2 separate regions of the Homo sapiens genome follow, and region 1 is linked to region 2. Evidence: fine-mapped expression QTL. A gene starts in region 2. The other region holds a variant in brackets. All regions are shown on one strand. Distances are from middle to middle.

The links. PIP is the estimated chance that this variant, and not a neighbour inherited with it, causes the effect.
Region 1: its variant is fine-mapped to the expression of EPB41L2 in blood mononuclear cells (TOPMed, PIP 0.92).

What each region holds. Positions count from the first base shown.
Region 1 is chr6:130,995,996-130,998,915 of GRCh38, reverse strand. All of the region lies in intron 1 of EPB41L2 (erythrocyte membrane protein band 4.1 like 2), which reads left to right. Among named protein-coding and RNA genes, the nearest start is that of EPB41L2, 66 kb to the left of the region's middle. The variant A/T (reference allele first, on the strand shown) is at 1,571.
Region 2 is chr6:131,062,026-131,064,945 of GRCh38, reverse strand. EPB41L2 (erythrocyte membrane protein band 4.1 like 2) reads left to right here and starts at 1,701. Exons shown (of 20, transcript NM_001431.4): 1 at 1,701-1,791. It overlaps LOC105378004 (a long non-coding RNA gene), which reads right to left and starts at 1,543. Exons shown (of 3, transcript XR_942993.3): 1 at 1,330-1,543. RefSeq lists silencers at 1,465-1,804, 2,145-2,244.

The DNA of each region.
Region 1 (2,920 bases), 66 kb after region 2:
TAGAAGAATTGCTTTCTGGGTTTGCTTTCCTCTCTCAGTGGAGTCACTGAGGTTTCCTGTACAGGTGAATGATATGATCAGAACTGGAGTTCAGGAAGATTAGTTGGGTAGCAGTGTCCTGGGATTCAAAGTAGGATTGACAATTTATGAAACAAATAGTCATAGGGAGAAAAATTTACCTGTTGCTAACTTATTTACTGGTTTTATTTACTGTAATCAGAGTCTACTGTTTGTAACTATGGCTGAAGTTGTTTTTTCACAATATAGAAATCATCAAATAGTTTTTCAGAGTACTGTCCACTGAAGATAACTAAGCACATACACCTCAGATAAAGTGAGGAATAATCAGTTTAGTATCCTGATTATCATCTTTCCCCATCCAGTCTATTCAGATATGCTATTTATTTTGTAATTAATCCTAACTCTCATCATTCCTTCTCTTCGTTTTTTTCCTAAGGCATTCTTAAGCTACTCTTTTAACAGTGTTTTGCAAGTGTTACTTGGTTGATCTTGGGTGGGTGTATCCCAATTTCCCCTACACCCCCAATTCATTAAGCAACTAGCTCCATTTTTGTATGGTGTTATAGGAAAGTTCTTGTCCCATTTTTGAAAAGAATTTGTCCTTAATCCATGTGAAAATTATTTGATTTTCATAGTCTTGGAATTCAAAAGATCTTGGAAAGAAAGTCAAAGTCTCATAGCTAGTAAGTGAAGGAGTTGGAATTGAAACTCAGATCTGTCTGATGCTGAGCTATGTTATATCTCTAAGACTCAATTTCCTTACTTATAAAATGGAGTCATTGGTAGTACATTTCTCATAGAGTGGTCGTGAGAAATTAAATGAAATGATACACATAGATTGCTTATCATAATACTGTTATTGCTTGTTTATAAACTACCTTTTAACAGGAATTATAGAAATACAGTGCTTATGAATCAAATTAATTCAGTTGATAAGTAAGGTTATTTTGTGATTTTTTTTAGTTATAATTTTATTTGCAAACTTAACAGTTGCAATAACTCGATTTTTAAAACATTAGGTGCTCTTATATACAATAATGAGTGAAACTTGTGTCCAATAGTTTCTTTTAATTCTTCCCTACAGACTGTCATTCTCCATGTTTAGCTCTGTTTTGTGTTAATTTTCACTGCCTTTTCCCCCCTGAAATGCAATAGTCCTGTAGTGTCCTACTGGAAACATTGTTCTCTTTGTTAGGGCTAAAGAAGTGCCTTTGTCACTCCTTTGAGACATTCTGCAGATGCCATTTTGCAGTCCTGAAAAACACGTCCCTGTCCGCCTTGTGCTGTGTTAAATTGTGCGTGTATTGTGCTTGATATTTTAATGAAGTCGTAGAGAAAATTTGACAGTAACAGTTGTCATATAACAAAGAAAGGCTCTTTCTTGATCTAATGTAGATATGTGTTCCCTGATCCCTTCGTAGCTCTGTGTGGTCTGAAAGTAGATCCCCCCTGCACTTAGATGTGACCTCAGATGGTTGATGCTTTTTGACTACCTTCATAGGAAACTGTTAAAACAACTTCTGAGCAGGAACTCTTAAGTCTTTTGTTG[A/T]TGTGCATTGCTTTTTAAAGACCTCTTAATTTACATGATCTTAATAGCGTTTTAAGTGGCAAGTACACTCTCTAATTTGCTAAGTGGCTTTAATCCTTGTATGAAGAACTGAGGGAAAAATCTCCTGGGAAATTGCTGTGATAAAATCCAGGAAATTCCTTTCATTCTTTTAAATCCAGTTCAAATCTAACTTAAAGAAAAGTCCTCTAATGTAACAGTGTCTGAAAGCTTCTCAGAGTCCAGTGATTTCTTGTGTATAGTGCCAAGCTCAAAGAGGAATAGTATGAATGTACCTCTGTGTTTTTGGTAAATCTATACCACATGGCACAATACCAATTTATTATAACTTTGCTGGGACTTAGTTATCCTGTTTTGTACTGCCCTTAAAACTGTTAAGGAGTATAGAGTTAAAGGGAGAAAACCCTACATTTTTCCATTTTAATGGACTTTATTTAAATTTTTGAAAATTATAACACATGTTCAGTGCAGAAAACTTGGTAACAGAAAAATGCAAATAAAGCAAAATTTCCAGGTACCCACATTTCAGGAATAATTACCGTTACCATTTTGGTTGAACATTTCCAGTCTCTTGTCTGTGAATATGTTCACATAGGTTAAAGCAACAGCATTATCCTTTTAAATTCACTTGTTTTCCCTTTGCAAAATAGGGTGATGCATTGCCACAAATTCTTAAGGTAGTAGAACTTAATTTTGGAAGTGTTAATCTATAGGGCATTCATTCATTCATTCATTAGATGGACTCATTTGAAAGTTCACAGTTTGTAGAAAGTGTGTACATTTATTGCCTACAGAAGATGTGCATCAGAAAGACATAGGCTAGTCATTTTGGATGTTTTCCAGGATCATATAAGTGTAACAAGTCTATATTATAACTCTTAAGAAGGCTTTGAAACAAGTAAAGATCAGATCACATAAGCCCTGACCCGTCCTGGAGGGGCCAGCTCACTGATTTCCAACAAGAGCTGATCTGTGCTGGCCTGACTCCTGTCATCTGGGGCAGAGGTACACAGGGGTTCCAGTGTTTGTTTATGTCTGGGCATCAGTTGGGCTTGTTTTATAGAATGATTCCAAGCTCTTGGTCATGCCATTCCATCTGTGTCTTTTAAAGATAAATACACAATTGGTATAGGACAGATCCTGTTACAGTAAACTTTATGGCAGAAACCAACTCTTTATATGGATGTTCTTTTGTAACTAAGGGGTATAAGTGAGAGGAAACCCTCCAAGGAGACTCAGATACTGGGGCCAGTCCCTCTCCAAAGAAGAGACAGAGTATCTCTGGCTCCCTTATTACTCTGAGGTCCAGTGGGAAGAATATTTACTTATGAT
Region 2 (2,920 bases):
TTCCCACATTTTCAAGGTCACCCATTTATGGTTATAATTTAGCTTATCAATATTTTCTTTTGGAGGGAAAAATTTCTTCTTAAGAGGTGGCATATAGGAGTGATTCATGTACTTCAACGCAGAGTATAGTAAGCATATCCTTTCTTATGAGAAGGGCATTATATTTTATTAACTATGCCTATATTTATGTTATTTTGCACTAGCATTTTAAAGGGGGCTCCATCAGGGTGGTTCAATGTTTTATGGGCCCAAAAGCTTATATGACTTTAGGGACTCTTTAAAAAACACAAAATGAAATACAAAATTATAAAGTTAGTTTCAAGGCTTGTGAAAATGAGAGATCCCGAAGTTTGTTTCATTAGTTTCGTTGTAAATCTGCTGCATATTTCTTATTATGAGAAAATAATAGTATTTTCTCATTAAATTCCCAGGTCTCCTTTACCAGAATTGCTGTCTAATCAGATTTCTGCTCTGTTTTAGCACACCTTATAAAATTTAACTTGTATACTTAGCATATGGGATTGTGATTAAATTAATACATGTAAGGGACTTAGAACAATGCCTAGCACATAAAGCACACAATCAACCTTAACTATTATTATTTGTATTATTTACTAGAAGGACCTTGGCAAATAATTTATCTTCCCAAATCTTTTTGATGTAATGGAGCTCAAACGTGCCTGCCTTTTTCATAGGGTGATTGTGAGGATCAAATGATGATAAAATATGTGAATGTATTTTGTTAACTGGAAGGTATTGTTACTGAGGTTTCATTTGACATTGTTAATTTTGGAAAAGGTTCTGTTTAGGAAAGAAAGGGAGACGACTTTGGCTGTGGTGGAATCACTAAAGACCTCAATAAAAGTGGGAGGAGTAAAAGGGATAAGAGGTGCGTGTGAGGCAGATGCTGGAGGCAGTGAGCTGGACACGTTGTTTGACACCAGCTTGACGTGCAAACCTTCAAAAGATGAAATATATTGAATCTGAAACATATTGACCTCATTGTACAAAAGAAAAGAACCAGAAGGGTAGCGTGTGTGTGCTTGTGGCTTTCCACAATTTAGCCCCAAACTAGGTTTTTTCCAGACTCTTCTTCACCCGTGGTCATGCTCTGCAATCCAGATTCCCAGGCCTCTGCCCAGAGAAATCCTACTTACTCTGGGGAGGCCTTTCCTCCACGGGGTTTCCCCAACCCCTCCTGTCCCTCCCACAGGAAGAATAAATGGTTCCTTTTCAATGCCCTTCCTGTGAAAGCACTTTTTCCACTCTAGACTGAGGGAGACCCAGTTTTCCTTATTCTGCATCTCCAGGCTCTGCTCCAGTGTTTACCTCTAGGAAGGCGCTCAGTGAAGGTTTAGTCAGCAAATGCACTTTGAATAAATAACTTTTAAAAGTTGAGAGGACATTTAAGGCCGGGAATCGCAGTTGAGAACGCCTTGCCCAGGCGCATTAGCTGTCATCCGGGCTGCCCTGAGGGCGAAAGACGTCCTCCACCCCCGGGTCTCCGCGGCCGCGCTTGCCGAATCCCGCGGGAAAGGTCCCCCGCCCGCGCAGGGGCGGGGCCTGGGCGTCGGGGGCGGGACCGCCCGCGGGGGTTTCCGCGCCGGGGGCTCGTCCGGCGGGGTCGCGGGAGGGGCTTCCGCCGCGAGGGGGCGGGGCCGGCCCTCAGAGTCCTCTGACGGCCCCAGTCAGGGAATTTCAATTTGAAACCTAGCGGAGGGAGGAGGCAGGCGCGGCTGCCGGCGGCTGGGACTGAAGAGGGACGGGTCCCGCGGCGAGCGAGCTCCTGAGGTACGGCGTCGGGGTAAGGAGGCGTGCGGGGCTGCACGGGCCGGGCGACTGGTCAGTGTGGGGTTGCAGGGGCGGCTCAGATTTTTCCTCTGGCTGCAGCTGGGAAGCTGATTCCGGGCAGGAAGCGGTGGCGGGACGGTCCCACCGGGATGGGGGGCGGGGAGAGGGGGCCCGGCTTTGGGATTTTCTGCGGCTCCCTCTCTCCTTTCCTTCCCGGTCTCTGCCCGACCCGATTCTTGCCCGGGGGTCCGGGTCCTGTTGCTCCGGGCCGGATCCCGGCTTCGCTGCTCCCCGCGGTCCCCCTCTTCCCTCTTCCGGGGGACCGGGGCCGCGTCCCGGCGGAGCCAGGAAAGGCGGGGGCACGGGGAGGACGCCGTCCCCCCCGGGGTGCCGTGGGCTCAGGTCACGCGTCCGGGCCCCGTGGAGCAACAGCGGGAAAAATCCGGCTCCATCCCCCCCGCGGGGAGGGGGTCGGCCGCGGCGTCGCCCTTCAGGAGGAAGGTTTTAGGAGGGGAAGCGCGGGCCGGCCGCGCGCGTGGGGACTGCGGGAAGCCGGGCGAGGGCGGCGCGCCAGCCCCACGCGCGGTGCGGGTCGGGCCCGCTGTAGGCTCGCGTCCGCGCCCCCAGCTGCCGCCTGCGCCGTCTGGGAGCTGCGGAGAGGGACGCGTGTTTCGTGCTCCGATCCTTACAATTCCCACACCCAGGCCATCTCACCACAGATGGCTTGTTTTTTCTCCTCCTGCGCCTGGGGGCCGAGGGTTGGGAGCATTTTTAGGTGAGCAGCGGGGAAGGGCGAGGAGAACCTAAAGGAGCGCGACAGGGTTGAAGTCGGCGTCTGGGGACGCCATCCCCAGGCGCAGACGCTGCCCCCAGCAGCCTGAGGTCTGTGGTGGGACATCAGTTATGCTTCTCTAGATCGCTCACCTCCCCTGAGGTCAAGTTTTTTTTTTTATATATATGTATAAATAAAATGAGGTTTGGTGAGAAGAACTACTGCCTAGAGTCTATTATTTTGGGGAGGGGTCTGCGTATGGAGCCCTCCCTACGGACCCGGGTAGTCTTTCATTGAATTGCCCCATCAACACCACAGCTGCCCTTAATTTTAAGATCCCTGGGTGGATGGGAGAGA